5 separate regions of the Homo sapiens genome follow, and regions 2, 3, 4 and 5 are each reported to be linked to region 1. Evidence: microRNA targets listed by miRTarBase, many of them from high-throughput screens and not tested one by one. Region 1 holds a microRNA gene; each other region holds the end of a gene's coding sequence.

The links. Region 1 holds the annotated microRNA hsa-miR-3925-5p (AAGAGAACUGAAAGUGGAGCCU, at 1,562-1,583, shown strand). A microRNA usually pairs through its seed, bases 2 to 8, with sites in the 3' UTR of a target mRNA and lowers its output. Matches are read on the target gene's strand: a 7mer-m8 pairs with bases 2 to 8, a 7mer-A1 pairs with bases 2 to 7 and ends in A, and an 8mer does both.
Region 2: miRTarBase lists RNASEL as a target of hsa-miR-3925-5p. Seed matches in the 3' UTR shown: 7mer-m8 at 3,500-3,506.
Region 3: miRTarBase lists G3BP1 as a target of hsa-miR-3925-5p. Seed matches in the 3' UTR shown: 7mer-m8 at 3,663-3,669 and 7mer-A1 at 1,594-1,600.
Region 4: the mRNA of GXYLT2 is a reported target of hsa-miR-3925-5p. Seed matches in the 3' UTR shown: 7mer-A1 at 5,796-5,802.
Region 5: the mRNA of USP25 is a reported target of hsa-miR-3925-5p. Seed matches in the 3' UTR shown: 8mer at 4,185-4,192.

The regions. Positions count from the first base shown.
Region 1 is chr6:36,617,389-36,624,062 of GRCh38, reverse strand. It overlaps MIR3925 (microRNA 3925), which reads left to right and starts at 1,551; the gene lies at 1,551-1,627.
Region 2 is chr1:182,570,214-182,576,887 of GRCh38, forward strand. RNASEL (ribonuclease L) reads right to left here. Exons shown (of 7, transcript NM_021133.4): 6 at 6,043-6,176; 7 at 3,421-5,365. The coding sequence ends at 5,179. Among named protein-coding and RNA genes, the nearest start is that of RNASEL, 16 kb to the right of the region's middle.
Region 3 is chr5:151,802,267-151,808,940 of GRCh38, reverse strand. G3BP1 (G3BP stress granule assembly factor 1) reads right to left here. Exons shown (of 12, transcript NM_005754.3): 12 at 1-5,056. The coding sequence ends at 4,850. Among named protein-coding and RNA genes, the nearest start is that of G3BP1, 34 kb to the right of the region's middle.
Region 4 is chr3:72,974,829-72,981,502 of GRCh38, reverse strand. It overlaps GXYLT2 (glucoside xylosyltransferase 2), which reads right to left. Exons shown (of 7, transcript NM_001080393.2): 7 at 4,588-6,526. The coding sequence ends at 6,344. Among named protein-coding and RNA genes, the nearest start is that of PPP4R2, 19 kb to the left of the region's middle. RefSeq lists an enhancer at 4,032-4,101.
Region 5 is chr21:15,876,957-15,883,630 of GRCh38, reverse strand. USP25 (ubiquitin specific peptidase 25) reads right to left here. Exons shown (of 26, transcript NM_001283041.3): 25 at 5,640-5,835; 26 at 3,567-5,328. The coding sequence ends at 5,156. Among named protein-coding and RNA genes, the nearest start is that of USP25, 150 kb to the right of the region's middle.

The DNA.
Region 1 (6,674 bases):
TGCATACTCACATCACACCACACTCCAACCAGCACTCCCCACGCTGCCAGTCACACATAGTTACACACATACAATCACATATATGTTCCCATATAGACACATTCACACTCATACTTTCACACATGCACACGCATGTGCACACACAGTCACTCATTTCTGTGTTGGAGATTGGGTGAGGACATTCAATGGGTGAGGACCAACAGGTGTGAAGATTGCTTTCTAGAAAATGACGCCTGTCTCTCTTTGCCATTCTTCCCAATCCAATGGAGCTACTAGGCTTTTCCCTCATTTCATGTTTAATAAACAAGCCGCTCTTGCGGAACGATGGTTGGATCCCTCATCAACCACCACACACTCCCGACCCCACCCTCCTTCCTGCCCCTGCCAGCAAACCTGACAGGTCCAAGGCCTGGAATTGAGAACCTGTTTTCTTCCCCATCCTGCCCCCTTGTGACGGGAGCCTAGAACTGCTGGCTCTGCGCCCAGAGGTTAACCACATTTCTCAGGAAGGTTCCAGTAGCCAGGCGGGTTGTTAGGAGAGGTCTGTATCCAACTCCCCTCCTCCTGCAGAGGGGCAAACTAACTAAATGAAGATCCACTCTTCCTTCACCCCGATCCTCAGGGCCACCAGAAGAGCTGACTGCTGTTTCACAGGCACACTCCACTGGCACAGGAGATGGGTGGGTGTGCCAACTGGACCAGCATATGGCAGGACCCTTATGATGATCAAGCCTACAGTCATCATACAATCACAGGATTGTTGCCCTATATCCATATTTTCTTGACACCCTAATAGTGCATTTGGCTAAACCTTGGTGAAATAGGCATGACAGCATGTGACTGTGCCGCCTCTGACACTGACCACCCAGGCCTTTCTCTTCACTCCTTCCCTGAGGCCTTGGAGGGTCTGCCTGTGGCCTTTAGTCTGGTGTTTGAGCTCACAGAACTGGGTGTGGTTGACCCTCCCTTTGTCCTCACCCCCTCCACACACACACAGGGATGCTCTTGCAGGCTCCTGGTTTGATGAGGCAGCCCAGGATGTGTCCCCACCTTTCCTCTTTGAGCCCAGGGCCAGTGTATTTCAGGCCGAGTGATTTCACCCAGGGTCTTGTTTCCATTCCATTTTATTTTTAGTCCTCAGGTGCAGTGGGATGAGTCCCTCCTATTCCCCAGGTGATGGCTGGCTGTCATCATTGGTCCTGACTAGTCACCTCTTGCTTCATGTATTCCCCCCTCACTCCATTGTCATTTCCATGCCCCCACCCCACAGGCAGCCATTCTACTATATCCTTTATTTGTATGTGTTCTTGTGCAGTGCTTTGTAGGCATGGATTTTGGTACTGCAAAGTGCTGCATTGTACACATAGTATTGCATAGTGTTGCCTTATTACCATTTCTGTAACAAACTGAATGTGTTACTTTATGTTGGAGCGTGGTGGAGCCTTAAGAATTTATTGAGAATCTCTGCATTAATGATTATGAAAGTGACTGCAAGTTTTCGCTGAGTCTTATTTCCTGAACATAAACTCAGGATCCTGGACCATGGTCATGTGGGAATAGCAAGAGAACTGAAAGTGGAGCCTGTCACATCTCCAGACTCCAGTTTTAGTTCTCTTGCTATTTCCACCACATCTTTCATCACTTCCTCCACTAAAGTCTTGAACTCCTCAAAGCCATCCACGTGGGCTGGAATCAACTTCTTGATGATGGATGAAGCCACTTCCTTGTGGCTGGAACCAACTTCTGTGTTTCCTAAAATGGGGACAGCAATAGTACCTACTCTCTAAAATTTGTTGTGGGCTAGGTGCGGTGGCTCACGCCTGTAATCCCAGCACTTTGGGAGGCCGAGGCAGGCAGATCATGAAATCAGGAGATCGAGACCATCCTAGCTAACATGGTGAGACCCTGTCTCTACTAAAAATACAAAAAATTAGCCGGGTGTGGTGGCGGGCGCCTGTAATCCCAGCTACTCGGGAGGCGGAGGCAGGAGAATCACTTGAACCTGGGAGGTGGAGGCTGCAGTGAGCCAAAATCACGCCACTGCACTCCAGCCTGGGCGACAGAGGGAGACTCCGTCTCAAACAAAAAAGAAAATATTTTTTGTGAAGATCAAATGGGTTAATACAAGTGAAGAGTGCCTGGCACTACTAGTGCTCAGTAAACATTGTTTATGGATGCTTTCTTTTTTTTTTTTATTAGGCCTTATAATAGCCCTATGAGGTAATATAATTAGTTCCATTTCACTGATGAAGAGACCAAGGTCCAGGGAACAAAACAACTTGCCCAGGTTTGCATCATGATACTGCCAGAAGCTAAATCTAGATCTTCAGACCCCAAGACGGCCACAGGACCTCGATCCCCATGTGTTCCCTAGAGGTGTTGTGCAGAACCTTCCTGATGCTGATCTGGATGACGAGCGGTCACCCACAGGCTGCTGGAGATGATTCCTGGTCGGGTGGCCCTCAGTCCTCCTTGATCTTTCTCCCACACTGTGATCTTCACACCCACTGGCCATTCCTGAGAAAGAACCTGCCTTCTCCAGGGCTTTTGTGGGTGCCCATGTTCACCAAGCAGCCTCTAAAGTGATGTGAATCCTAGCGCCAGGCCTGGTAGTAGCACATATGCATGGTAGATGCGTGCTGGAAAAGCAGGAGCCCTAGGAGCCTGCCTTGGGTTCTAGTCCTAGCCATCCATTGCCTCACCCTAGGGTCTAACTTTCTATCTCTAACCTTCAGTTTCCACATCTGCACAATGGGGATAGGAACTTTTCTGTGAGGATCAAGTAGGTTTTAGGAGACTATTCCAATCTTGATCAAATACTAACAGTCGCCTGAACCCTGCAGAACAATCCCTGCTTGTTGTACAGTCTGATGCCACCTCAGATGAACCATTACCCACTGTATGCACTGAACATTTTCCCCTCCCCTCCAGGAAGATCATCCTCTGGATCTGCCCTCCTCACAACGGCCTTATTGCTTTTCTGGAGTCACCGAATCTTAGAATATCGGTGCTGGAAAAGAACTTGAGGACCATCAGTCCCAGTGTGGCAAACTTATCTCCTTATCAAGGACCCCCGCTGCCTAAAGCAGTGGTTGACTCAGTCATTGCTCCCCTCACTGCAGGGTGCAGTGTGAAGAGGGGACAGATCATCCTGTGAGTTACAGGCCACCTTCAGCCCAAATACCCCCTTTCTACAGATAGGCAAACTGAGTAAATGATGATCCCAACTTCCTTCACCTGACCCTCGCCTCAGGGCTACCAGGAGATAGGGACGCCATGTTGGCACAGGAGATGGGTGGGTATGCCACCTTCCCCATGGGCAGGCCCCTATTGCGGTCACATCTCAAGTGACTACTTACAACCATCAAACAATTAGGGTTTACTGGTGGATGTCTTTATCTTTTTGACATTCTGTAGAATTATGCTAACAGATTTTGGAAAACAATTTGCCCAAAATCTACGTGACTTCATCCTTTGATTTTTGTTTGTTTGTTTGAGACAGGGTCTTGCCCTTCACTCAGGCTGGAGTGCAGTGGCGCCATCACAGCTCACTGCAGCCTTGACCTTCCAGGCTCAAGTGATTCTTGTGCCTCAGCCTTCCAAGCGGCTGGGATTACAAGCGTGCACCACCACGCAGCTTTTTTGTTTTTTTGGTTTTTTTTTTGAGATGGAGTCTTGCTCTGTCACCCAGGCTGGAGCGCATTGGCGTGATCTCGGCTCACTGCAACCTCTGCCTCCCGGGTTCAAGCGATTCTCCTGCCTCAGCCTCCCAAGTAGCTGGGACGACAGGTGCGTGCCACCACACCCAGCTAATTTTTGTATTTTTAGTAGAGACGGGGTTTCACCATATTGGTCAGGCTGGTCTTGAACTCCTGACCTCATGATCTGTCCTCCTCAGCCTCCCAAAGTGCTGGGATTACAGGCATGAGCCACCGCACCCAGCCATGCCTGGCTAATTTTTGTATTTTTAGCAGAGACAGGGTTTCGCCATGTTGGCCAGGCTGGTCTCGAATGTCTGGCCTCAAGTGATCTGCCTGCCTCGGCCTCCCAAAGTGCTGGGATTACAGACGTGAGCCACCACACCTGGCCTTAATTTTTGTATTTTTTGTAAAAATGCAGTTTTGCCATGTTGCCAGGGTGACTTCACCCATTTTCAATGCAGAATTTTAACACAAGAGTGTACTTTAGCCAGTGAAATGTGCACGCTTACTTCTTTTAGGAAAAAACTGAAATATTTGCTGGGAACCCCACAACAGTTGCCACAGGAAAGACCAGAAGAAAGCAAAAACAGGTAAGGAGCATCCTTTAAAGTGAGGGGAGGCCGGGCTCATGCCTATAATCCCAGCACTTTGGGAGGCCAAGGCGGGCAGATCACTTGAGGCTAGGAGTTCGAGACCAGCCTTTAGCAACATAGCCAAACCCTGTCTCTAATAAAAATACAAAAATTAGCCGAGCATGGTGGCACGCACCTGTAATCTCAGCTTATTGGGAAGCTGAGGCAGGAGAATCACTTGAACTCAGGAGGCAGAGGTTGCAGTGAGCCAAGATCGCACCACTGCACTCCAGCCTGGGTGACAGAGCAAGACCTTGTCTCAAAAAAAAAAAAAAAAATGTGAAGGGAAAGCCCACAATGATAGCACTTTCATGCTGGCAAGCCCACGGATGGTGCATACTCAGTGTCTCTGGGGGAGCAAAACTCAGGAGCCGACAGCCCTCACCTAGTCAGGTGGTTTATTCACAAACTGTCCACTCCCAGGACTTCAGGATGGGGCAAGTCACAAAGCAGGATGTTTTCAGTGGGGAATGTTTAAGTCCTTCAAGGAAAATACCGTATCATGAGCTTTTCAGGGACAGGTATCTGTGACCCACCTGTGTGCAATGCCTCTGTGGTCCTGATATTCTGGTGCTGGGCTTGGACTCAAGCTGTGGGTTTCAACCCAGCTTAACCTTATCTGCATGACCTTGGGGAAGGCACTTCCTCTTTCTGGAATTCAATTGTCTCGTTTGCAAAGTGGGACCATGATATCATCTCTACAAAACCCTCTAAACACAAATGAAGAAACTTCCCATACCAAGCACCCAGAATAAAGAAAAAGGCTAGAAAAACCAGAAGCTATTGAATCACTTTTTTCCCTTTTTTTGCTTATATGTGCTAATTTTTCTACCATGGTCATGGGTTACCTTTGAATTATTATAAAAGTGAGTAATTAAAGGGGGTGGAGCAGAGCTGATGTGAAGGAAAACGCTGAGCTTGGCAACTTTCAGGGCCTCCTCTGTGCCAGGCACAGTTGCTGATGCTTCACCTATGTGACCTCATCTCTTTGTCCCAACAAGCCTGAAAGGGAGGCATTATGGCTCCTACTTCCAGCTGGGGAGACTGAGGTTCCCGAAGGAGTCAAGCCCTCACTATCATGAGAGCCTGTGGTGATGGTGATGTACCAGGAAGGCGCATACAGATGTGTGGCAGCAGCAGCAAGGTGAGCACTGCAACTCTGAGAAAGCGGAGCCTCCCCCCTTTCTTGAGACACTGCCTCAGAGCCTCTGAGAAAAGCCTTCCCCACTGGTGATACGCCACGAACCTGCTCCTGGGGGACCTGCTCTGGATTCTTTTAAGATCAAAAAAGTTTATTATTAAATAGCAGCATCGTGTCCAGTCAGAAAAGCTTAAGTGTATGAACGTCCTTTTTTATTTTATTTTTTTTGAGACAGAGTCTCCGTCTGTCTCCCAGGCTGGAGTGCAGTGGCGTGATCTTAGTTAACTGCAAGCTCCGCCTCCCGGGTTCACGCCATTATCCTGCCTCAGCCTCCCGAGTACTGGGACTACAGGCGCCCACCACCACGCCCGGCTAATTTTTTGTATTTTTAGTAGAGGCAGGTTTTCACCATGTTAGCCAAGATGGTCTCGATCTCCTGACCTCTCGTGATCCGCCCACCTTGGCCTCCCAAAGTGCTGGGATTACAGGCATGAGCCACCACGCCCAGCCTGAATGTACTTTTAAAACATGTTTCTGCTGCTGGGCGCGGTGGTTCACGCCTGTAATCTCAGCACTTTGGGAGGCCAAGGTGGGTGGATCACTTGAAGTCAGGAGTTCGAGACCAGCCCGGGCAACATGTCAAAACCCTCTCTACTAAAAATACAAAAATTGGGCGTGGTGGCACATGCCTGTAGTCCCAGCTACTTGAGAGACTAAGGCAGGAGGATCACTTGAACCCAGGAGGCAGAGGTGAGCCGAGATTGCGCCACTGCACTCCAGCCTGGGCAACAGAGCAAGACTCTGTCTCAAAAACAAAAACACATGTTTCTGCATAAAAGCATTGTTTGTATGCCATATTCTCCTTCTATTGAGTAGCAACACAATTCATCCTCTAAACAAAAAATGCTAATTATACTTTGCTAAAACATATCTCCAAATATGGATTTAATAAAATGCTTTTCTCAAAAAAGAAAATAAAAAGGGTCCTGCCATTTATAAGTAGATTGCTTCTTTCAAAAGGCAAATGCCAATAAATGACACTTCATCCTGGAGATGTGTAGTCCACCTGTTCTGTGCCCCTGAGCCACCACCTGTTGCCAATGTGTCTGCAGCCAACAGGGCTAGTCCTAGTAACACGGTGCCCCACCCCACACCACTGCCCCACCCTGATACTGAAACTGCAGCTGATGGGGTAATGCT
Region 2 (6,674 bases), not on the chromosome of region 1:
CCAGAGTGATTCTTTTAAGTGTTAAGCTACATCATGCCACTCCTCTGCCCACAGTCCACTGAGGGCTTCCCATCTCAGTAAAAACCCAAACCCTTCCATGTGCTTTGGGGCCCTCCCTCCCTGGTTCCCTGACCCCTCTGTCTTCCCTTCTTCTTGCTGGTCTTTGCTCACTCTGTATGGCAACCATGCTTTTGTGCTCCTCAAACAGCTCAGGTATGAACAGGCCCCAGGGCCTCTGAACTGACTATCCGTCCCCTCTGTTTGCTTTCCCTCAGATACCTCCACAGCTTGCTCTTTTGCTTCCTTGCAGTTTCACTTGGTAGGCTCCCTCTTGATGCGGTCCACCTGACCCCCGTCTTTAAATTTAATCTACTTTCCCTAACTACCAACTCTTACCTTGCTTAACTTTCTTCCTGCTTACTATTACCCTCTAGTATACTCTGTCCTTATGGATGTTGGTTTTCTTCCCCACCCTGCTCCCACCTCATGAGGACAGGGATTTTGGTCTTATTTGTTCACTGACTTATGGAGCGTAACTTCCTACTTCCTGGTCTGCTGAACAGCTGAGGCATTAACATGAAAGACACATAATCTTCTACCTTGTCTGAGTCACAGTCATTTGGTCCCTGTTAAAAGAGCTAAACAAAGTCTTCGCTAATTATTCAGTTTCACAAAATGTATTTTTTAAAAGACTTGATTCTCAAGAAGAATGTTCAGTGAGCAGAAAGTGAAATTCTCTGTGTTTATGTCTCTCATTGCTTTGGGTTCACTCCTGCTGTGGACATCAAATCACTTCAAGATTCGTGGGTTAAATTTTTATAGGCCAATATTAGTGGCTAACATAGTAATGTTATGTTATTATTTTTGAATAAATATTATTAATAAATAATATTAAATATAAATATTATCAACATAGACTCCTGTTGATGGTGTTCTACAGCCTCAAAAAATCCAATTACTTTGCTTTTTCCCCACCCACTTCTCTCCTCTTGTTAGTACCATCTTTGGGTCTTGTTGGGAACAGGCCCCCCAAAATCTGGCCATAAACTGGCCCCCAAATTGGCCATAAACAAAATCTCTGCAGCACTGTGACATGTTCATGGTGGCCATGATGCCCGCACTGGAAGGTTTTGGGTTTACTGGAATGAGGGCAAGGAATACCTGGCCCACCCAGGGTGGAAAACTGCTTAAAGGCGTTCTTAAATCACAAACAATATCATGAGCGATCTGTGCCTTAAGGACATGCTCCTGCTGCAGATAACTAGCCAGAGCCCATTCCTTTATTTCAGCCCATCCCTTTATTTCCCATAAGGAATACTTTTAGTTAATCCATAATCTATAGAAACAATGCTTATCACTGGCTTGTGTTCATAAATACATGGGTAAATCTCTGTTCAGGGCTCTCAGCTCTGCAGGCTGTGAGACCCCTGATTTCCCACTCCACACCTCTATATTTCTGTGTGTGTGTCTTTAATTCCTCTAGCGCCATGGGGTTAGGGTCTCCCCGACCGAGCTGGTCTTGGCAGGCTCTTTTGTTTGTTTGTTTTTGAGACAGAGTCTGGCTCTGTTGCCCCGGCTGGAGTGCAGTGGCCTGATCTCTGCGCACTGCAACCTCTGCCTCCCAGGCTCAAGCTATCCTCTCATCTCAGCCTCCCAAGTAGCTGGGACCACAGGCACATGCCGCCAGATCTGGCTAATTTTTTTTTTTTTTTCATTTTTAGTAGAGACAGGGTTTCACCTTGTTGCCCAGGCTTTTCTTGAACTCCTGATCTCAAGTGGTCTGCCTACCTCAGCCTCCCAAAATGCAGGGACTACAGATGTAAGCCACCATGCCTGGCCCATCTTTTGGTCTTAGTCTAAGCAAATAGGCCATAAAGCAATGAAAAGTTTACACAAATGAAAAACACTGTGGAAGTGATGAAAAAACATTCCTTTTAAAAAAAAAAATATGGCCGGGTGCTGAGGCTCATGCCTGTAATCCCAGCACTTTGGGAGGCCGAGGCAGGTGGATCACGAGGTCAGGAGATCGAGACCATCCTGGCTAACATGGTAAAACCCTGTCTCTACTAAAAATACAAAAAAATTAGCCAGGCTTGGTGGCAGGTGCCTGTAGTCCCAGCTGCTGGGGAGGCTGAGGCAGGAGAATGGTGTGAACCTGGGAGGTGGAGCTTGCAGTAAGCTGAGATTGCACCACTGCACTCCAGCCTGGGCGACAGAGCGAGACTCCATCTCAAAAAAAAAAAAAAAAAAAATCTGTTCATGTGATAGGAGAAGACCAGAGGAGCATAAACATTTGCTGCAAGCCTATGGTGATTGTCTTAGTCACTTTTGTCTCTTGGGGTCCTGGTGAAGACTCTCATTGTGGCTTGCAGATGGACACTTTCTTTCTGTGTGCTCATAAGGCAGTGAGAAAGGAGAGCTCTTTCTGTCTTCTTATGAGGTCATTAATCCCAACATGAGGGCCCTATCCTCATGACCTCATCCAACACTAATTACCTCTCAAAGACCCCCATCTTCAAATACTAACACATTGGGGGGTTAGGGCTTCAATGTATGAACTTGGGAGGGACACAATTCACTATATAGCAGTAATTAAGAACAGCAACAAGTAAAACTGGGTGCATAGTACATGCCAGGCACTGTACTAGGCACTTAGGCAAGCCTAAGAGAAAATCTCCACAGAAAGGAAAAAGGAAAGCTGAATTTCCCAGGGTCTCCTCCAGAGGAAGGTTGTGCTGTTCTTTACCCAAATCATCTTGAAAGCCCACTGTGTCCTAAAGCTTGTGGGGTAGAGAACGGAAGAGCTGCCCAGGGGTCGGCTCCAAGACTTACCTCTCTCCCAGGCTGCAGCTCCAGCAAAGACCCACCAAAAATCAAATGTTAAAGGTTCTTCTCAACCAGTGAATTCAAGGAGTATCTTATAACTTAAATACACTACACACTTATAACACACCAGGCACCAAGTGAGGAAATGGGATATGATCTCTGCCCTCCCAGGCTTATTGGAGAGACAGGTAAATGCCACCAACTGCTGAGTAAAGCACACAGGGATAGAGCTTTTACCCCTGAGCAAGAGTACAGAATCAGCCTGCCTAATACAGGACCTGATATGAACCACATGCTCAATGAAATGTTTGTGACGATGACAACTGAATGAGAAATGTTTGCAGAATGTCAACAGAAACTCTCAGAGAATTCAAGCAGACGGAAAAATGATCATTTCCTCCCTTCTCTCACTACATACTAGGCCCACATTATTCCAGAATTACTAGAAAGTCAAAAATAACTCCTTTTCCCATTTTCAGACAGCAGGATGACCTTTCTTAAAACTTATCCAGGAATTACTTAGTGAATATTTTCTATTGTAGATATCACCCACTCCTTAAAGTGGAAATGTCACTTAAAGAAAATCAGACTAAATAAGACAATTTAAAGTTTTATTGAGTAAGCTTCACAAATGGGCATTTTAATTGACATGTCCAGGTGCTCATTACAAATCAGAGAACCAAAGCTTCATTTTAAAAGTTAAAGCAATCTTGCTGCTCATAAAGTATTTTTTAAGCCTTAAATTTGTTCCTAATCAACATTTAATTTCATTCAGTGGTATCTATTTATCCATTGCTAGATACCTCCTTTTCAGAAAGAACCTAAGGTACTGTTTTATTCCCATTACAAAGCTCCATCTCAACCACCACAATGATTCATGGAAAGAACATCAGACTTAGCACCAGAAAATTTGTTCAAATCAAGATAGTAACACTTCCTAGCTATACGTCCTAGAGGAAATCAAAATGTTTCTAACCTTAGTTTCCTCATCAGCAAAATAGGGATAACAATGTTGACCTTAAAGGATTGTTTTGAAAATTAAATAAAATAAAATACTCAGATGTAATGTATACATTATAAAGCACCAGAAAAACGTAAGACAGTATTATTATTCATGTACGAAGATGGTTCATTCATTATTCAATGAATATTTATTAAACATTCCCACTTGGCAGACTTTTTGCTTGGCAGTGAAGATACAAAGTCAAGAAAAGACAGCCATCGCCCGTGAGGAGCCTACATTCCAGTGGAGGAACCAAAACTAAAAGGCGGAGGAAAGCTCTGGGTGCTTGGGAGCCAGAAGGAGCTCCTAGACTGGGTATGGGAAGTGAGGGAGGCCTGGGAGCCTCCTGTGGGGCTGACACCAGAAGGAACTCCATCACTACAGATCCAGCAAGAGTAAATAAATCTGAGTCCCTCCTCTGTGGGGTGGTCCACACACTCCACAGTCCTGGGCCTTAAGCTAGTTCAAAAGCATCCCAGCCCCTTAAGTCAGGTTTTCTCAACCTCAGCACCATTGATATTTTTGTCTGGATAATTCTTTGTTGCAGGGGCTGTCCTGTGCAAGGCAGGTTTGGCAGCATCCCTGGTCTTTACCCACTAAATGCCATAGCATGCTCCCCACAAAGCTGTGACACCAAAAACTTCTTCAGACTCTGCCAAATGCTCTCTTCAGTGCAAAATTGCCCCCCAGTTGAGAACTACTGCCTTAAGGTCATGGAAAACCAATGCAGTTGGTTCTGGAAGGAGTGGAATTCATGCATCCAGTGCCCAGACTTATACTAGATGCTCAATAAATACTGAATGAATGAATGAGATTCCTGGAACCCCTATATATGTTTTGGGCCTCATCTGGAAGAGCCCTGGAAGGATAGTTAAGTTTTAAGGTGCCCAAATGAGAGGTACCAATAACACCACATAAATTTATAAAGTGCTAGGTATAAATTGAATAATCTTGGGCCAGTAGCTCACACTCTCTGAGTCTCAGGTTCCTCAGTTCTTAAATGGGGATGATAATCCCTGTTTTGCAAGATCATTGGGAAAATTAAGTGAGAGAATTGTAACATATGCAGCATTAGGGGTCAAGGCACTCATTCTTTTGGTGCAATTGACAAAAGGAATCTTAGCAGAATGTCCTCCCAGTTAGTGGGTAAAGCTTATGGACTAGTGTAGTCTGGGTATATATTGCTTTTGTTATAGACATATGGAATACACGATGCCAGGGACTGACATATCAGCTATGCAACTCATCCCTCACAAGCAACCTGGTGAGTTAAAAGGCCCAGAATGTTGTGATTTGCCAAGGACTCTACAGCTAATAAGTAGTTCCCTGAACTCCAGCAAATCAGTCCATCAGCACCCAGGGCTGGCCAACCCACTGGCCCCACCAGCTCCATCACACTGAGGCTTGTTTGGACTGTGGGTTTGGGGGAAATGCTTTCTATATTCTGTGTTCTGTAGTTTTGTGTAGACATAGATCACCAGATCTGGAAATGTCTTCTGAAAATACAGGGAAGGGTCTCCAATTTTTAATTTCATCCTGAAATAAAACACAAATTGTTCAGCATGCTTGCCCCAAATTATTCTTCCCCGCTTCACAGCATATGGCCCTGAAGATCTCTTTGCTCGCTTGATTTCTATTGCAGAATGAATAAGGACTTTGGAATCTGACAGAGCAAGACTCCTCCCCTGACTCTTCAACTAATTGTGCAACCTTTGGCCACAATCTTTCTGAACTTTAGATTGTTCTTTCATAAAATGGAAATAGTGCAATGCCACAATCCTCTACCTACAATTCCAAAATCCAGAAGAGCCCTGAACTGCAAGGCTTTTTTGTGAGTTTGCAACTAACATCTTTGTCAGCAAAAGCTGATCTAACTAATGTGGGCTATTTTTAGACGTATATAACTCTACCTTCACTTTATCTAGCTGTCCAGTCTCCTGTGTTACTTCACAGAAGGGAGTCACTAGCTCCTGTTCAATTTGTTTTACCATTTATCCAACAAAAAAATGACAAGGAAGATGAAAGCCTGCTGGACATGTCCCTCATTAATTGTAAGGCAACAGTGATAGCCCTTTTACACACAGAGGGAAGGAATTACTTTTCTTTCATCAAAATAAATTTTCTTTTTTCCATCGTAGATATAAACTTAGAATTGGATTTTTTAAATTGTTCTCATTTCACATATAATTTGTAGGAATGAAAACAATACTTACTTTTTATGCTTTTCTTCATCAATGTGTTCTCCCAAATTCCGGATGAACTTTAGCAGATCACCCACAGTGTTCTGGTAGAAATTGCCTCTTTTTTCATAAAACTTATTCATTTTTTTCATAACACATTCATTAATCTAAAAAAACAAAAAATAACACAAAAATGTGGTAGCAACACAAAATAAATCCTGATGAAATATTCATACCAAAAGGCAAAATATAAATTTGAATATATTCATATATTCTATAATTACCAACTAATTAATAAAGCAAAATAATTTAAAAATGGAAGTAAATGCTGTATACCAAAATGCTAACTATAATTGTGTCTGGGCTGGGTGGGGTGGCTCACATCTGTAGTCCCAGCACTTTCAGAGGCCGAAATGGGCGGATCACCTGAGGTCAGGAGATTGAGACCAGCCTGGCCAACACAGTGAAACCTCGTTTCTACTAAAAGTTTCTGCTAAAAAATTAGCCAGGCGTGGTGGCGCTGCCTGTAATCCCAGCTACTTGGGAGACTGAGGCAGGAGAGTCACTTGAACCTGGGAGGTGGAGGTTGCAGAGAGCTGAGATCGCACCACTGCACTCCGGTCTCAGTAACAGAGCAAGACTCCATCTCAAAAAAATAATTTTTT
Region 3 (6,674 bases), not on the chromosome of region 1:
CCTCCCACAGCACTGGGATTACAGGCATGAGCCACCCCACCCCACCCCAAAGTGATTTTAACTTCAGCAATAGTTAAAACTGTTTCTATCCAGGTTAAACAGGATTTAATCTTCCATCTAATTACTATCAAAAATATAGGCAACCTTCCCCAAAAGTGGGCTTCTGAAAATAAATACTTGGTTCAGTAAATCAATAATTTCTGGTAAACATCCTTAATTTACTTAAAAAAATCCTAAGACACACTGTATGCACACTGTACCTTACAAATCTGGGACACTGGCCACATTTCAAAATACTACACTTAGGAATTTCTGTAATTGGCCAAGTCACATGATTTATTAAAGGAATAGTTGAACAGATTCCCTATATTATTTTCCTCTTACAGGGAATTAAAATAAGCTACTAGGTTCAAGTAGAAACTGTGGAGAGAAGACGAATCCAATGTTTTCAAACAAGTCACATAAACAGAAACTAAAAACCTAATTGCAAGCCAACACATATGCATAATCAAAAACCAAAACTGGTTAAGGGTTTTAGGTAATCTGTAATCATCTTTTTACTCATTTAGGCCTTGATTTGAGACATGAAAGCATGAACAAGGCAGTTTAATTTCAGTGTTGTACTGAGGTGATATCTATCCACTAATAAGAATGTAAATATAAACAAGTTTTATCTCACATGTGCCACCATCTCTCCTTTACTATAGTCTGTTAAGAGTTGACAGGCCCACCTATGGTCCCCAGAATCTCAACATTAAACAAATATAAATCCCAAAAGGCATTACTACCTTAGAACCAGAAATTCTTAGTTATCATCTTGTGCCACACGGCCATTACTTGATCAGCAACTTTAACTTAACCCCTCATCCCACATAAGACATTGCTAATTTTTTTTTGGTACATTAGGCAGTTAGCTAAAACCTGATATTCAAATAAATGCTGATGTTACTTCAAGTTTAAAAACTGCTGAACTAAAAAGGTCAACAATTATCTATATGCAGCATTGCAAAGATTCCTTTAAGTAGCACAAAAAGAAAACTGCAATATAAAAAACATCTTTATAGATTTGACAAATGCAACCATTTAAAAGAAATGTCACTCAGCATAAACAGTGGTCTACAAATCTAAGCTCTTCAAAAAGGTTACCTGTAAGTTCTAAAATGGCCTTCTATAAAGTGCAACATTTTCCATTAAATCGTTAAATTCTACAAGGGTTTTTCAAATAGAGGGATGAAGAAAAGTATCAGAAGGTGACAGTTTATAAGCACAAAACACAAATTCTATAAACTCACCTGGATTATACTATAATAAAAATATTATTATTCACATCCAGATTTGAAGTTTGCATTAAATTATCAAACCTGATGAGAAAAAACTTAAAAACAAACCACCATTATTGTGTTACCATATATAATCTGCAAATCAAAAAAAGACTCACAAAACCCAAGTTTAATTATCTTGTTTGCCCTAAAGGAAATTAAGAACTGTAATGTTAACCTTGTTCTGAATGTATTCCAGACTCAAGTCTCCCTACAGTAGGAAGTTCATTGCGGTCTATGCTACTGAAATGTAATTAGGGGGGCATTATGGTTCTAGAGAAAAAGCATCAGTTTGGGAGGCAAATGTGCTCCTTGCTACATGGATGACTTGGAAGCCTGTCATTTAACTGTTCTGATTCAGTTTCTTCCTCATCTATTGTGCTGAGGACAATATCACCTAACCCGCAGCACAGATGTGAAAATTAACTTTTCTAACCTAAAGTGCAATTCAACTAACACTGTGGTAATGACATACTCAACCAAAGTCAAATTATTATTTTTGGATTATCTATCTCACTGGTCCCTAGCAATATCTGACAAAGTTGAGAACGCTGGAATACACAAAGTAAAACCCAACCTCACCACTAAAACAAAAATACAGTTTAAGGCCCAAGATGTCTAATTACAAATTAACAGGTCTTAAAAAACTAAGACCCACTGAACCAAACAAATCTTATCTAACTAAAATACTCATGAGGCCAGGTGCAATGGTGCACACCTGTAGTTCCGGCTACTTGGAAGGCAGGAGAACTGATGAGGCCAGGAGCTTGAGACCAGCCTGACAACATAGCAAGACCTTGCCTCTATAAAAATAAAAATTTAAAAAAAAAATCTCATGGGTCAAGAGTTCTAAGCTCAGTAGCTAATAACTATACATTGGGCCATTCCTACGGATGAAAATTTTCATTTTAAAATCTGAAAATGTTCAATGTGATGAGCTCCTACTGCTGCCACCTATAGAAAATGTTGCCCTAACTTATAATGATTTTCCAGCAGTGGAAACGTATACATCTCTAAGCTCTCAGGTTTACTCTACATGCAATAATGTACATAATTGTACAAGGATTCTCAACAGTTCTGATCATGATGCTAATCCTATTTCTTAGGTCCAATACTATCATTCAAAACCTCACAATCATCCCAACTCTGATGACAGAAAGCACTGGGGAAGCTTTCTATTTTCTGAGATTGTGCAGTAATTCCCTGCAACAAATTACAAGCAGCATCAGTATGTATTGCTACCACCTCTCCACATTTACACCAACATACACAACACACACATACATTTGGTACAAATAATAAAAAGTGAAATTACTAATTCCTTAGAGTAGATGTTACTGCAATTCTTGAAACAGATTTCCATTTCCTAGTTTGTTATTTATCTGAGGCTGAGTTTCAAAAGAATGAGTCTTCATTCCAGTTTTCCTAATCCCACAGCTCCACCCACCCACAGGAATAGGGACTATCAGTGTTCTCAATGGGGTTGCTTCATTTTTACACAACATTTGGTATCCTTAGACCCCACCCAATAAATGCCAGATGCATGTCTCTCCAACAACCCTTCCAAATTTCACACATTTCCAAATGTCCTCTAGTATGTGATAACACCAAGCTGAGGATTGCTGCATCTAGTTAATGCCCTTAAGTCTCCAAGTAGGAAGAACTTCTGTTTTGAAATGTATAATTTAGTATTCACTCATGAAGGATAATTTCTAGGCTATCCATAATTTATGACCTTGAAGTTACCACAAAGTAATTTTTTTTTCCAAAGTGACTCAGACTAAACTTTTCTTTCCACCCACCACATGCTTAATATAAGCTACAAAAGTATAAGTTGTATTTCTTCCTATTATCAGTGATCTGGGCCAAAAGTGGTTACCAAAGTTACTTTAACCCTACAAAAAAGCCATGTGATTCAGTTACATTAAGTTTATGTAAAGGAGATGCTGCCAATTTTCAAATATTTGAGGAACTGGAACCAAACTGGTAATACCAACTTCACTGTGGTCTTAACCATCACAGCAAACCTAGAGTTTCTCAGTAATGCAAACCAAATATTCCTATGCTATCCTCAAACGACAGTCCTAAAGATGAATACTGTTAAGAAAATAAATACGCTGAATTTTACAACCTGGTTGCCCTTCAATTAGTAATGACAATCACACAAAAGTTTGTTTCACACGTGTAAACAAAACCTTCACCCATCTCACACACAGCACTCAACAAATAACACATATGTGAAACGAGTATTAGTCTATATTGCCAGATTAAATTTTCTTCCAGAAATATTTTAATAAAAATTGGCCATTTCCAAGTAACACCCACTGCATGCCCATCAATAAAAGAGAACCATAACAAAATAGAAAATTTACCATATGGCTATGATTTTAAGAAAAAAAAAAATGCGGACACGAGCACATGAGCAAAGTCCAATATTAAAGTAACATTCCTTCTTACGGGCTATGATTAGGAATCTGATTAGATACCAGAATAAAAATACAAATGCTGAACTATTTAGGTCAAAGAACCTCTATAGAAGCATCTGTCTTCAAAGGCATTCCAGTTTGAGACTCAATTTTAGAATAAGGCATAACAAATATGTTAACAAAAGACATACACAAAGTGATGAAAGAGGGATTCTATAATTCCCCACATACTCTGAACCTAATAAAACAAATCTAGATTTTTTTTTTAAACAATTGCCAAGACTGAAATCAAAGATAAATAGAAGGCACAACAGTTTTGCTCTGGTTGTTATCTGGGTTTTGGGAATTTTTTTGCTTTTTGTTTTTTTACAAATACAAATTAAACATGAAAAAACTACTTCAAAAAAACTAACAGTTCAAGAAAAGCCTATCAGTTGCATTCTAGACATTTAAAACCTATTATCACAATTTAAATTTCAATGGTAAAAACAGTTAGGTTTTAGAATTGTTTTGTGATCCTTTATCAAAAAAAAATTCTATTCCTTTTATTCAGTTTTTAAACATACCAGTGAGAATCAAAATTGTCAAATTTTCCAATGGCAATTTCTCCACACCAGAAGGTAGTCATGACTCTCAAAGAAGAAACAATTTGGGTTTTTCCTGCCTTCAAAATATTATCAAATCCTGTATTTCTTACAGGCTTTTCAAACACGTAGAAAATAAGAAATATTCCAATGAATGAAACATACCAAATGTCAGTAATATGCAAGACATTCCTTTGGGGAAATGGCTGTAAAAAAAAAAAAAAAATCCAGTCTGTATATGCAAAGTAAGCAAGGAAATTCAGTCTTTTTTTTTGCTTCTTTAAAAGTCCGTTATTCCTAAAATATCATTCCACAAAATTGGAAGTGAAAGACTAAAGGTCAGGAAAGGGAAGAGAGGGAGAGGGAGCACACACCATTAACACACAAAAAAAGTAAAATTATACAAACTTAAGCAGTTTATAACAGACTGGGGTCATACTCCAAGATACCAAAGGCTGTCGAAAATTCACCATTCTGTTGGAACCAGGGTTTGTATGGCTGCATGAAGATCCATGAAGATTCACTGCCGTGGCGCAAGCCCCCTTCCCACTCCAAATCCTGGTTTCTGCACCATGCCTCCACGGGGAGGGCCTCTCATTCCACCACCCAGCCCACCTCGAGGGCCTCCAGGTCCCCGAAGGCGATTATCTCGTCGGTCGCCTTCCCTGGCAGCTCGAGTCTTCTTCTCTTCGACATTCAGACGGACCTCACCTCTGAACATGATGGGCTGTAAGAATCAAGGTGACCAGACTTAAGAGTACTGATGAGCTGGCTATCACTATCAAAGATAAAGAAAGCTGTAATAATGAACCAGCAGAGGCTGGGCACGGTGACTCATGCCTGTAATCCCAGCACTTTGGGAGGCCGAGACGGGTGGATTACGAGGTCAGGAGTTCAAGACCAGCCTGACCAACATGGTGAAACCCCGTCTCTACTAAAAAAACACAAAAATTAGCCAGACATGGTGACACACGCCTGTAGTTCCAGCTATTCAAGGAGGCTGAGGCAGGAGAATTGCTTGAACCCAGGAGGCGGAGGTTGCAGTGAGCCAAGATCACGCCATTGTACTCCAGTCTGGGAAAAAGAGCGAGACTCCGACTCAGAAAAAAAAAAGAACCAGCAGATTATAAATCAGCTAAGTTCTCACAGTTCAGTTTTTTGTTTGTTTTTTTAATGAGACAGAGTTTCACTCGTCACCCAGACTGGAGTGCAACTTGAACCCGGGTGGCGGAAGTTGTGGTGAGCCAAGGTCGTGCCACTGCACTCCAGCATGGGCGACAGAGTGAGACTCCGTCCCAATAAAAAATAAAAAATAAAAAAAATTGCCACCTTCTCCATAGATTTGGAGGCTTAGAATAAAACCTCATCATCACCAGTGTGAAAAGATGGTACTGTACATATTTATGCAAAGTACATATACATTTAAAATAAAAACTTCATTAATTTGACATAAACTTTAATTTGCTCTTTAACACCTCCTGAGAATTTTGGATAGTCTTGGCCTTCGTTTCCTCCTAACAGAGCCAAAGTAGTTAAGGGGCTACGAAACATTTCAATATATTCAATTTATGCTCTTCACCAGCAATGTAATTTTCTAATTTCTTAAAATGAGTATCTAAGAGTACTTACTATGTGTCGCGGAAGTGTTCTATTCAAATTTATTTATTTATTTATTTTTTGAGATGGAGTCTCGCTCTGCTGCCCAGGCTGGAGTGCAGTGGCGCGATCTCGGCTCACTGCAAGCTCCGCCTCCCAGATTCACGCCATTCTCCTGCCTCAGTCTCCCGAGTAGCTGGGACTACAGGCGTCCGCCACCACACCCAGCTAATTTTTTGTATTTTTAGTAGAGACGGGGTTTCACCGTGTTAGCCAGGATGGTCTCAATCTCCTGACCTCGTGATCCGCCCGCCTCGGCCTCCCAAAGTGCTGGGATTACAGGCGTGAGCCACTGTGCCCAGCTCTATTCAAATTTATTAGCTCACTTAACCTTTACAACAACCCTCTGATGGTAGATACCTACTTTAAGGACTAGCAAACTAAGGGCCGGGGAGGTTAAGTAACTTGTCCCATGGGTCACAACACTAATGAGTGATGAAAGGAGAATACAAACCAAGGCCTCCAGGGAAAAATAAGCTTTGAAACGGTAAGCTACACTACAGTATGTCATACACCACGGCAATCAGTCTTACATAAGCTATTTCTGCTCACACAAAAAATTAGTGAAGGGAGCATAGTAGACTTCTATCAATACCATGAAATGAAGGGTGGCCACTAGGCCTAATACATGCTGAATGATGGATTTATCTACAAAGCCTACTGGACATTTCTGGGTTCTTCAGTGGCTT
Region 4 (6,674 bases), not on the chromosome of region 1:
GTTGGTCTAGAACTCCTGGCCTCAAGCAATTCTCAAGCCTCAGTCTCCCAAAGTTTGGGATTACAGGCATGAGCCACGGTATTTGGCTTAGTCAGTTATTTTTGATGTGTGTACTAGCTAGCAAGTTAGGCTCAATTTTGTTAAATAAAATGTAGGAACATAGATAACTAATTTTCACATTCTTCAAACTCTATTTATTCTATCTTAAACACAAAACACCATTAAAACCAAATAACATCATTTGTAGTATGGCATTCTTAAAAACAAAGCAAATTTTAATGATTTTTTAAAATAGACTAAGCTAATTACTAAACCAAATATTTCATTACTTGTTATAAGAATTTAAATATTATTACTTATTGTAAATGTTTAAACTTGAAATCTTATATAAAAGAAACATACCTCCAGAATAATACCCAAAGACATGTTTTTAAAGCTTTTATTTAAAAAAAGGGTAAAACAAGAGATGACATTTTAAAAAGACAAGACAGTAATTAAATCATAGTACCGTGTCCCTTTTAATTTGCCATAATAATTCCTTTTCTTTGGAGTATTCATTTTTATGCTCATTTCTTTGCAAAGAAAAATTACAAAAAAAATGTTTTCCAGTATAAAAAATGAATACGGGGCCAGGCGCGGTGGCTCACTCCTGTAATCCCAGCACTTTCGGAGGCCGAGGTGGGTGGATCACCTGAGGTCAGGAGTTTGAGATCAGCCTGGCCAACATGGTGAAAGCCTGTCTCTACTAAAAATACAAAAATTAGCCAGGCATGGTAGCGGGCACCTGTAAATCCCAGCTACTGGGGAGGCTGAGGCAGGAGAATCACTTGAACCCAGGAGGTGGGGGTTGCAGTGAGCTGAGATCGCGCTACTGCTCTCCAGCCTGGGCAACAAGAGCAAGACTCCATCTCAAAAGAAAAAAAAAGGATTTGGGGTCTCCTTGGGAGCTATAAACAGTAGATGCATTTTTTCAGTGACAACATGAACATGTGAAACTGATGAAGCAGAAATTGTATCTGATTCTTACATGTTCATGCATATGGTGATAGAAGCACAAACACTTTATCTTGCAGACAAGAGAATATTGCCAGTTTTGACCTATGAAGAACAAAAACTAGGACAAAGCTCTCTGTCAGAGAAATCTCATCATTTTTCAATACCACCAATGCAATTGTGAAATGATTTGACCTAAGGTTTATCTATAATTCCTCAGTTCACAGGTACAACAAATATTGGCTCCTCCTTTTAAAGGCAGTGTGTGTGTATGTATGTGTGTGTGTGTTGTGTTGATTGATTTTTTTTTTTTTTTTGAATTCTGGAAAACTCTTAACATAAAGATTTGGTCTAAGGGTCAGAACTTTGTTCTAGCCTGCAAGGGATCCCTAAGTTCTGTCATTCTACCACTAAAGCCAAGCTTCTTGGTTCTCCTCAGAAGCCTACATCATAGACAGAAACGGAAAGGCAAAAATGAAAAAGAGGAATATGAAAAAGTGGGAGAGAAAAAGAAAAACATGAAAAATTTCTCTATAATTCTATTAAGTGAGAATATGTCAGCTGGGCACAGTGGCTCATGCCTGTAGTCCCAGTACTTTGGGAGGCCAAGGCAGGTGGATCACTTGAGCTCAGGAGTTTGAGACCAGCCTGGCCAACATGGTGAAATCCCATCTCTACTAAACATTCAAAAATTAGCTGGGCATGGTGGTGCACACCTGTAGTCCCAGCTACTCGGAAGCCTGAGGCATGAGAATCGTTTGAACCTGGGAGGCGGAGGCTGCAGTGAGCTGAGATTGTGCCACTGCACTCCAGCCTAGGTGACAGACGGAGACTCCATCTCAAAAAAAAAAAAAAAAGAGAGAATATGTCCTGTGTTAGCTTGCTTAGGAAATAAAGAGAGAGAGAGAGAGGGAGGGAGGGAAAGAGAGAAAGAGAGAGAGAGAAAGAGAGTGAGAGAAAGAGAGAGCAAGAGAGCAAGAGTAAGAAAGAAAGAAAAAGAAAGAAAGAAAAGAGGCCGGGCGCAGTGGCTCACGCCTGTAATCCCAGCACTTTGGGAGGCCGAGGCGGGCGGATCACGAGGTCGGGAGATCAAGACCATCCTGGCTAACACGGTGAAACCCCTTCTCTACTAAAAATACAAAAAATTAGCTGGGCGTGGTGGCGCCTGTGGTCCCAGCTACTCGGGAGGCTGAAGCAGGAGAATGGCGTGAACCCGGGAGGTGGAGCTTGCAGTGAGCCGAGATCGTACCACTGCACTCCAGGCTGGGTGACAGAGCGAGACTCCATCTCAAAAAAAAAAAAAAAAAAAAAAAAAAAAAAGAAAGAAAGAAAGGAAATATGATTTGTGCTGTCATAGAACTCAACATATTTCTGATTTCAGTGATGAAATCATGTTCATGTTGGTTTATCAAACACATGTAATTTATCTTTTATACGTATAAATATCAGATAATAATGTATAAATATCAGATAATATTTATACATGAATCTAAATTTGTATGAATGTCCTGCTTTCAGGCTGGGCTGCGAGTGATTATTTTGTTACTGGATCATTATTTTGTTTTCAATCACTGTGAATAATAATGTTTTGTATGATTTGGTTTATTTGTTTTTGCTCATGAACACCATAACTGCAAATAAAAGAAATACTCTCAAACGTCTGAGTCCATATAAATACCCATTTCAATACCAAATTTGGTAAAAGTCACAATAATTTGCAATGGAAGCACTGAATATGAACTAGACATATCCCATAAATAGTAAAGCTTGGAGCTTTGTATCCAAAGTGCTAAATTGCCATTTTGGAAGTTGAAGAAAAACTTAAATTGCTTTTCTAGCCAGTTAATTGTTTAAATATTAGAATTTTCAATGTAAGCCATGATTACTGAGATTTATATTGGAGAAACACTCAGCAAGAAAAATATTGGCAGCATTTCCAGTGACACTGCTGTTGAAAAACCTCAATCTCGATGCATATAAAAATACTGTCACCTTTTGCTATCAGAAAGTGCTCTTTTCTTCTTTAATGGAAGTCCATAGTTATATGCATTAAACAGAAATTAAAAAGAAATGAGTAAAGAAGAAAAGAGAGGGAAGAGAGAAAAGGCAGGGCAGGAGGAGAGGAGAGAACTGGCCCACCTTCTTCCCAGTATTCTTTTTTTTTTTTTGAGACGGAGTCTCGCTCTGTCGCCCAGGCTGGAGTGCAGGGGCGCAATCTCGGCTCCCTGCAAGCTCCGCCTCCCGGGTTCACGCCATTCTCCTGCCTCAGCCTCGCGAGTAGCTGGGACCACAGGCGCCACCACGCCCGGCTAATTTTTTGTATTTTTAGTAGATACTGGGTTTCACCGTGTTCGAAAGGATGGTCTTGATCTGCTGACCTCGTGATCCGCCCGCCTCGGCCTCCCAAAGTGCTGGGATTACAGGCGTGAGCCACCGTGCCCGGCCCTTCCCAGTATTCAATGTGGCATATGGGGCAGCACCACCTCTGGCAAACTTTAAACCAGAGAGTGCATGTTTTAGCAGGCCACTGAATTAAAATTTGTGGCTCCTGGATTTCAAAGGCGGTTAATGTAGTAATTTGCTGGGAGTTATCAAAGGCAGAGAAAATATTGCTCCATGGTAATATCCTAGCTATGGAAAATAATTAGCACTTTCAGGCAGCAAGGATTAGAAAAGCAAATTTTCTCTGAATTCTCTGCCAAATTCAGCTAAAATTTCAGGATACAGCACAGGAATTCCAAGGCAGACAACCGCACGAGGTTCTAAGGTTTCACATTCTCAAAATTCATCATTCTAGAATGTTCTAGGGTGATATCATTGACCTTTGCGGGCAACCCTTTTCTGCACAGTCAGACCAGTACTGGTAGTTGAGAGTTGTGGGTAAACTTGGCTCTCATAAAAAAGAAAGGCATTGTATTTCAAGTCTTTACAGTAGATGTTTTTGTGGGACTTATCAAAGGAGAGAAGGAACCTCTTTGAGTTGGTGAGCCATCAACAAATCTGAGTGCCATTTGTGTGTTTCACTGGCCATTCTGAACAAGTAGAAAGGAAACTAGGATGGAAGTTAGGAAATTATGTTCCATCCTGGCTCTTTCACTAAAACCCAATTTATGGGTATATAAGATGCAATTTCCCCTATGTGAAAGACAATTCAAAAATTGCTCCATATCATACGTGTCCATACCACAAATGGAAAGCCTAGTACTAAAGTTACAAAATAATGATGTCACCTCTAGTGGTGAAATAAGGAAACAAAATATAACAGCAAAAATAAGAGTTTCCCGTCATAATGGTAGTTTCCTTAACAAAAATAACCACAGGGCAACTGATCAGAAGGAAAGTATTACTCTAAAATTTTAGATTTAAATTTGTTACTACTATAATAATGCTGCATACCAAAACTGATTGACATCTAAACATTTCTGTGTAGTGCTGAGATTTTCATATCTATTTTTTTTTCAGGGTAAGACTGACTTTTTTTTGCTAATATTGCGCCCATGATATCTTATTGGATTCTAATATATATAAGGATATCATATTTACATCAACAAGATAATATTTTTCTTTTTATACTTCCAGATCATTGTCTCTATATAACAAAAAGTATTTAATATTTTAATTTTCAAAAATGTCTCTGTAAATAAGATACATCTTACACAGACTGTATGTCTTACAGAATAGCAATTATATTCAATATGTTTATTTCTTTGTGTTACAATTTCCTTGTTTGCCTTATAGAGATGATTCAGGACCCTACCAAATCCACTAGGCTGTTGCAAATATCAAGATCATCTATGCAATAGTCATTTGAGAAAAATAAAGCATTATGCAAAATATTGCTATGCTGATACCAACTATATGAGCAACTAGGGATTAAGCCAGATCCCCGTGGGGAACAGAATATTCAACTTCCTCCTTGCAGTGAGGTGATAAAACCTGTATGGACCAGCTAGGTAACCCTAGGGGGAAAGAAATTGTTTAAAGAGACCTTTCTAAGGCTGGTAGGAAGTTGAATTTTCTTACCAATAGAAGCAGCTGAACTATTTGTTTTTTACACATTAAATTTGAAGTTGGTCTCTGATTTCCACCCATTGCCCAAGAGTTTAAGAAAGAGAGATGACCACAGCTACTGATGATTAACAGATCAAATGTTTTTGTCTGTGGTAAACACAAACATTCCTGAATTTCCTCTCAGAAGCTATTGTTGCATAGAAATGTATTATGATTTAGTCCTCCACAAATCAAAGTAATTTTTTTCTTTAGAAATACTCCCAGATTGGCTGAGTGCAGTGGCTCACACTTGTAATCCCAGCACTTTGGGAGGCTGAGGCAGGCAGATCACTTGAGGTCTGGAGATCAAGACCAGCCTGGCCAACATGGTAAAACCGTGTCTCTACTAAAAATACAAAAATTAGCCGGGTGTGGTGGCACACACTTGTAATCCCAGCTACTGGGGAGGCTGAGGCATGAGAATCACTTGAACCCAGGAGGTGGAAGCTGCAGTGAGCCGAGATCCTGCCACTGCATTCTAGCCTGGGCTACAGAGTGAGATTCCGTCTCAAAAAAAAAAAAAAAAAAAAAAAGAAAGAAAGAAAAAGAAGAAATACCCCCAGATACATGCTTCATCCTTTAACACTACCCAAGTATCTGAATGATTCTCTCAGATGTATTTTAAATAAAATTCTGTACACATAATCATCTCATCTAATATTTTAGTCTCCCACATAAAAATCTCAGCAAAAAGGCCAGCTTTTACTGAGATTACCTGTTTTAGATGTGTGTTAGAGTGGAAAATGCAAAAGTAGAGAAAAAAGGTTGTAAGGAACTGCTTTAAAATGGAAACAATCTTTTCCACTGGTCAATAGGATTATGGCTAATCTAATCTTGATGTTGAGCCCTTGACCCATATGCTCTACAAGTGTGTCTCTCTGTTTCAAAAGTGTGTATTACTTTTATAACACGGGTGTGGGGGAGTCAGTTGCATAGAAAGAGTCTCAGGAATGCTAGATCAATATAACACCTCAGGTGCCACTGAAATGGTCTCAGACGTTTAGGAATTAGAAGGCTCACAAAAGCTATTTTCACAGCTAGCTCAACCTGCTTAAACAATGTTAAATGAGTAATAGTCTTTTTTTTTTTTCCTTAGAGATAAATAGCATTTTAGAAAAAAAAATAAGGAAAAGCATATTCCCTTTTGGGGGCAACTGATTTGGCAAAATTTAACGAGGTTTTTAAAACTCAACAGTCATGGAGCACCATTAAATATTCACACAAAAAGACCCAGGCAGCTTAGAGATTAGTATTTCCTTGGTCACAAGACACCTAATTGACTTGCAACAAGACAAAATATTCAGTGCATCTGGTTGGGGCCAACATGGATGATGACGTGTTTCTCATAAGCCCTTTTCATTGTTTTCTCAATTTGCTTCAGAAAAACTTGCGGGATTCGTCCACATAAAGTGTGCACAGTCTCCAAAAACTTCAGCTGAAGGGGGTAATACATGGATTGAAAGAGATTGTCTTGAAAGGGAAACTGAAAGATGACAAAAAAAAAGTTTATTTAGTAACGGAAATGCCATTTTAAATGCAGATCATTTTTACTAAGAAATGACACAGGAATTACGATAAGCCCACAGGCACAGGTTTGGACAAGTGAAAAGACCTTTGAGGATCTAACTTAA
Region 5 (6,674 bases), not on the chromosome of region 1:
CAAAATCACACAATCCAGGAGCTAATTTTTTTTTTTTTTTGAGACAGAGTCTCGCTCTGTCACCCAGACTGGAGTGCAGTGGCACGATCCCAGCTCACTGCAAGCTCTGCCTCCCGAGTTCATGCCGTTCTCCCGCCTCAGCCTCCCGAGTAGCTGGGATTACAGGCACCCGCCACCATGCCCGGCTAATTTTTTTTTTTTTTTTTTTGTATTTTTAGTAGAGACAGGGCTTCACTGTGTTAGCCAGGATGATCTCAATCTCCTGACCTCGTGATCTACCCGCCTTGGCCTCCCAAAGTGCTGGGATTACAGGCGTGAGCCACTAGGAGACCACTAGACTAATGAAGAAAAGAGAGAAGATTCAAATAAACACAATCAGAAATAAGTGGGCTCTTACCACTAACCCCATAGAAAGACAAGTCAGATAATATTATGAACACCTCTATTCACATAAATTAGAAAATCTAGAAAAAAATCATACATTCCTGGACATATACACCCTCTCAAGGCTGAAACAGGAAGAAATTGAATCCCTGAACAGACCAATAATGAGTTCTGAAACTAAGGCAGTAGTAACAGCCTACCAACCAAGGAAAGTCCAAGACCAGGCAGATTCCCAGATGAATTCCACCAGAGGTACAAAGAAGGGTCAGTTGCTATCACTGCTCCTGAAACGATTTCAAAAGATTGAAAAGGAGGGACTCCTCCCTAACTCATTCTATGAGGGCAGCATCAGCCTGATACCAAAACCTAGCAGACATACAACGTCAACAACAACAACAAAAACTTCAGGCCAATATCCCTGATGAACACTGATGCAAAAATCCTAAACAAAATACTGGCAAACTGAATACAGTAGCACATCAAAAAGCTTATCCACCACGATCAAGTAGGCTTCATTCCTGGGATACAAGGTTGGTTCAACATACAAAAATCAATAAATGAGATTCATTGCATAAACAGAACTACAGACGAAAACCACATGATTACCTCAATAGATGTGGAAAAGGCCTCTGATAAAATTCAATATCACTTCATGTTAAAAATTCTCAATAAACTAGGTATTAAATGAACATACTGCAAAATAATAAAAGCCACCTATGACAAACCCTCAGCCAGCATCACATTGAATGGGCAAAAGCTGAAAGCACTTCCCTTGAAAACCTGTAAAAGACAAGGCTGTCTCTCTCACCACTCTTATTCCCCATAGTATTGGAAGCTCTGACAAGAGCAATCAGGCAAGAGAAATAAATAAAGGTATTCAAATAGGAAGACGGAAATCAAACTATCTTTGTCTGCAGATGACATGATCCTGTATCTAGAAAATCCCATCTCAGCCCAAAAGCTTCTTAAGCTGATAAGCAACTTCAACAAAATCTCAGGATACAAAATCAATGTGCACTAAGTGCTAGCATTCCCATACACCAAAAACAGGCAAGCCAAGAGTCAAATCACAAGTGAACTCCCATTCGCAACTGCCACAAAAAGAATACAATACCTAGGAATACAGCTAATAAGGGACGTGAAGGAGCTCTTCAAGAACTATAAACCACTGCTCAAGGAAATCAGAGAGGACACAAACAAATGGAAAATAAAATTCATGCTCATGGATAGGAAGAATCAATATTGTAGAAATATCCATACTGCCCAAAGCAATTTATAGATTCAGTGCTATTCCCATTAAACTACCAATAACATTATTCACAGAATTAGAAAAAACTTTTAAAATTCATATGGAACCAAACAAAACAAAACGAAACAAAAAACCAAACCTGAGTAGCCAAGGCAATCCTAAGCAAAATGAACAAAGCTGGAGGCATCACACTACCCAAATTCAAACTACAGTACAAGGCAACAGTAACCAAAACAGCATGGTGCTGTTACAAGAACAGACACATAGAGACCAATGGAACAGAATAGAGAACTCGGAAATAAGACCACACACCTACCTATAGCCATCTGATCTTCTACAAACCTGACAAAAACAAATAATGGGAAAAATATTTCTTATTTAATAAATGGTGCTAGGAGAACTGACTAGCCATATGCAGAAAACTGAAACTGGACACCTTCCTTACACCATATACAAAAATCAACTCAAGATGGATTAAAGACTTAAATTTAAAACTCAAAACTATAAAAACGCTAGAAGAAAACCTAGGCAATACCATTCAGGACATAGGAATGGGCAAAGATTGCATGACGAAGTGTCAAAAGCAATTGCAACAAAAGCAAAAACTGACACACGGGATCTGATTAAACTAAAGAACTTCTGCATGGCAAAACTAACAACAGAGTAAAAAAGACAACCTACAGAATGGGAGACAATTTTTACAATCTGTGCATATGACAAAGGTCTCATATGCAGCATCTATAAAGAACTTATGATATTGACAAGAAAAAAGAAAACCCATTAAAAAGTGGGCAAACGACATGAACAGACACTTCTCAAAAGAAGACATACATGAGGCCAACAAGTATATGAAAAAAAGCTCAGTATCACTGATCATTAGAGAAATGCAAATCAAAACCACAATGAGACACCACCTCACACCAGTCAGAATGGCTATTATTAAAAGTCATAAAAACAACAGATGGTAGCGAGGTTATGGAGAAAAAGGAACACTTTTACACTGTTGGTGGAAGTGTAAATTAGTTCAACCATTGTGAAAGACTGTGATGGTTCCTCAAAGACCTAAAGAGAGAAATACCATTTGAGCCAGCAAACCCGTAACTGGATATATGCTCAAAGGAATGCAAATTGTTCTCTTATAAAAACATGCACGTGTATGTTCACTGCAGCACTATTCACAATAGCAAAGGCATGGAATCTAACCTAAATGCCAGTCAGTGATAGACTGGATAAAGAAAACGTACATATACGCCATGGAATACTATGCAGTCATAAAAAGGAATGGGATCATGTCCTTTGCAGGGACACAGATGAAGCTGGAGATCATTATCCTGAACAAACTAACATAGGAACAGAAAACCAACTACTGCATGTTCTCATAAGCGGGAGCTAAACGATAAGAACATATTGGACTCAATGGTGGAAGGAACAACACACACTGGTGTCTGGCAGAGGGTGGGGGCTGGGAGGAGGAAGAGGATCAGTTAGAATAGCTAGTGGATGCTGGGGTTAATACCTGGGTGATGGGATGATTTGTGCAGCAAACCACCATGACACACATGTACCTCTGTAAGAAACCTGCATGTCCTGCACATGGACCCCTGAACTTAAAAGTTGGAAATTTAAAAAAAAAAAAAAAAAGAAATTTCAATGATCTAAACCTTACAATTAGATTAAAAACCAATATTAAAATAAGTTGTTTCTGTAGGTCTTGAAAAAGGTCACTTTTCTTTAAATAAGTTATTTCAAATTCATTACTAGGAATAAATAATCTGGTTTTTAAGTACATAGTAAATACAATTATAATACTTACCTTCAGCACAAGAGTGACATGATTCTCTGGATGTGACTTTGAAGGAATAATTTCCATATAGTGTTTGGGCACTTTGTATCTCAGCAGTCAATTATACACAAACACAAACAACTTTACCACTGTGGTAGAATGTCATAAAATATTAAGGATACTTTCTTTACAAAAGCTGTGATGACACATATGAAGTTTCTAAACTTTTAACAGGACTGGAAAACCAATGCAGAAATCTGCTCAGTAGACAACTTAAAATCTAAACCCAAACATATTTTGATAGATACAATATGCAAAATCTAACTTTACAACAGGAATAGTACTAATTCCTTGTCATTAACACCTTACTAGTACATTAATACCTTTACAAACAGCATCATATAATAGCATAATATTTCATCTTACTCCTCCATCCAGGATCTTTTGTGAGAGGCACTAATAAAGAACACTAGTTTTGGCGACGCTGTATCAAACATACACATAGTATAATGGTCTATTTTACTATGTTCACAAAACATCATTTATAAAGAAATTTTTATGAATTCAAAAATAGGTTGTTAGTAACATGATTACCTTTAAAGTATGGATTTTGATTTTCATTCACAATATTAATTCATTAATCTTAAACAGTAGTTTCATCTACAAAATGTTCTACAGCTTTTTCCTTTTTGAAAAGGAATAAAGGCAGTTAAGATACTCATAACTTCTAGTTAAACAACATCAATTTTGTTTCACAGTATTAATTAGTAGAGAACATTTTCAATTAAAGTGATATACAATTTACAAAAATAGAATGATTTATATATTGCAAAACATTGTCCTCCATTATGAAGAATATATATATACATGTGTGTATGTGTATATATGTGTATATATAAATATTTCTTTTAAATTTTACAATAGCCCTTATTCAAGTACTTTGGGATTCTCTTGAAATAATCACCTTGCTGTATATTGTAAATACATTTAAAAAGTAAGATTAATCTAAGAAAAGGATAAAAGTTTCAGTGTAGTTTGACTTAAAAAAAATCAACCACTTACTTGAGTAAAAACCTGACTGAATTCAAAACAGGTTCCGGTGCCATACTAAGTTCAAGAACTTTGTTAAAAATATAGATAAATTTAAGTGTCAAAGACTTAAACATTTTCCAATTTGCTAGCATTAGAGCAGAATTAAAAGATTGTATTAATCTATTAACTATCCAATCTTAATCCCCAGACAAAATTCATTTATCTAGTATTACTAATACACTAATATACAATATACCTGCTTACAAACACATAGGTAGCCATAAATAAAACTTTATTCTTTATTTCATTTACAAGCTACCAAATATTATGTATCGTACACAGTGCTGAACACTTAAATGGCTGTAGTCATGGAAGGATCCAGACTGAATGGAAAGCTGTTGAGAAAGAAAAGATAAAAGCAAAGTAATACTGCAACAGGAAGGTGGCAAAAGCATAGTTTTGCCATAATAAAATCAATTAGATTTGTGATTATACATCAGTTCCGGTTAAAATGTCTGAGCGCCATGCGATTTTCAGCTTTATTGTCTGCAGTCTGACTAAAGTCTGTATAGTCATTTTGTCTTTTGCAGTTATTAAAATAAAAAAAAGTTAAAAACTATAGCAGCAACAAGCAAACCCTGTGACAGGAAGGCAAGGGTTAAGAACTAAAAAGAGTTTATACAGTGTGTTCAGGGAAAGTGTGCAGTTTATCTTCCATCAGCAGGAGTTCGACTGAGGGACAACATGATTCGGGCAAATCGCTCACAGAGTTCATGCGTGGAATATGAAGGTAACTTCGGTGGCTCATGGAAACTTTTAATCTCCATAGAACAATCAAGCAGTTTTGGCAAAAAATCTGTCAGCTTTTCTTGGAGGTGTGCTGCAAATACAAACAATTAAATCTAACTAAAGATAGAAATTATTACACGATCATTGTCAACATGATTTACTAATATTAACTTACTCTAATAGGTAAGATAATTGCCATTTTGGGGAGACAAAAACATAAATGGCAACTGCAATGCACACAGCTTAGTTCATCAATATGGAAAAAGAGTAATCATGTGAATGTGAAAATATTAATACTTAATATTGTATTTAATATAAAAAATGGCAAGAATAAATAACATCTAATTCTAACTGCATTTAATCCGGACATCTCAGGTGCCTACTACCATTGTTTAAACTTACGTTCCATTTCTTGACCAAGGTAGGAACACCATCGATTTCTCATATCTTCTACAGCTAGTATATCCTTTTCTTCCATTTCATCCACCAGTAATAATGGCAAAAATGGGACAATAAACTCATTCATGATAATCAAACCATTGTTTACTTCTCGATCCTCTCCAGATTCGAAGAGTTCTGCGGCTTGCTCATTTAATTTCTTAATGCAATGCAGGAAAAAAAAAAGAATAGGTTTTTGTTTCCTTTTTAAATTAAGGATCTGTAAGTATTAATAAGGAAGACAACATAAATATGTTCACAAACAGTATTAGAACAAACGGTATTTAGAGAAAACAATCTCAACCTATCTAGAACTGAAAATCTCTCTTTAGAAAAAGCTATGCATATGGCAACAACAGAAACAAAAGCAACAGCGGTGGAGAAAACATTATTGTGTTTTTCAGTCATGTTTGGCTTATGCCGATCATCAACACAGGGGCCATTTTTTCTTCTCTAGAGATTAACTTCCCCAAATTATAAAATTGTATAAGCACTCAAAATAGTTTTAAAAATAAAGAAATTCAGAATCCATATTAATTTTTGAAAAACTCATCTCCATTAATGGCAACTGAATATATACTATTGTATTCCTTGATACAGAAATATAAAGGTAATCAATTCACTTTTCCCTTCAAAAACTTCCTACAGAGTCAACACCACGTGCCAGAAATTTCTGCAGATGCAGGGGCACTCAAGTGATTAATACAGAAAACTCTCATGGAGCTTACAATTTGGTACAAGGATTGGCAAACTTTTTCTGTGAAGGGCCAGACGAGGACTATTATAGGCTTTGAAGGCCATGAAGTTTCTGTTGCAACTATTCAACTCTGCCATTGTAGTACAAAGACAATAATACCCAATATATAAATGAATGTGCATGGCTATGTTTCAATAAAACTTATCTATAAAAACAAGTGGTAGGTGGAGCACAAGCCATAGTGTGCTGATCACTGATCTAGTAGAACAGAGAAATCCATGCAATAAGAAACATAAGAGATA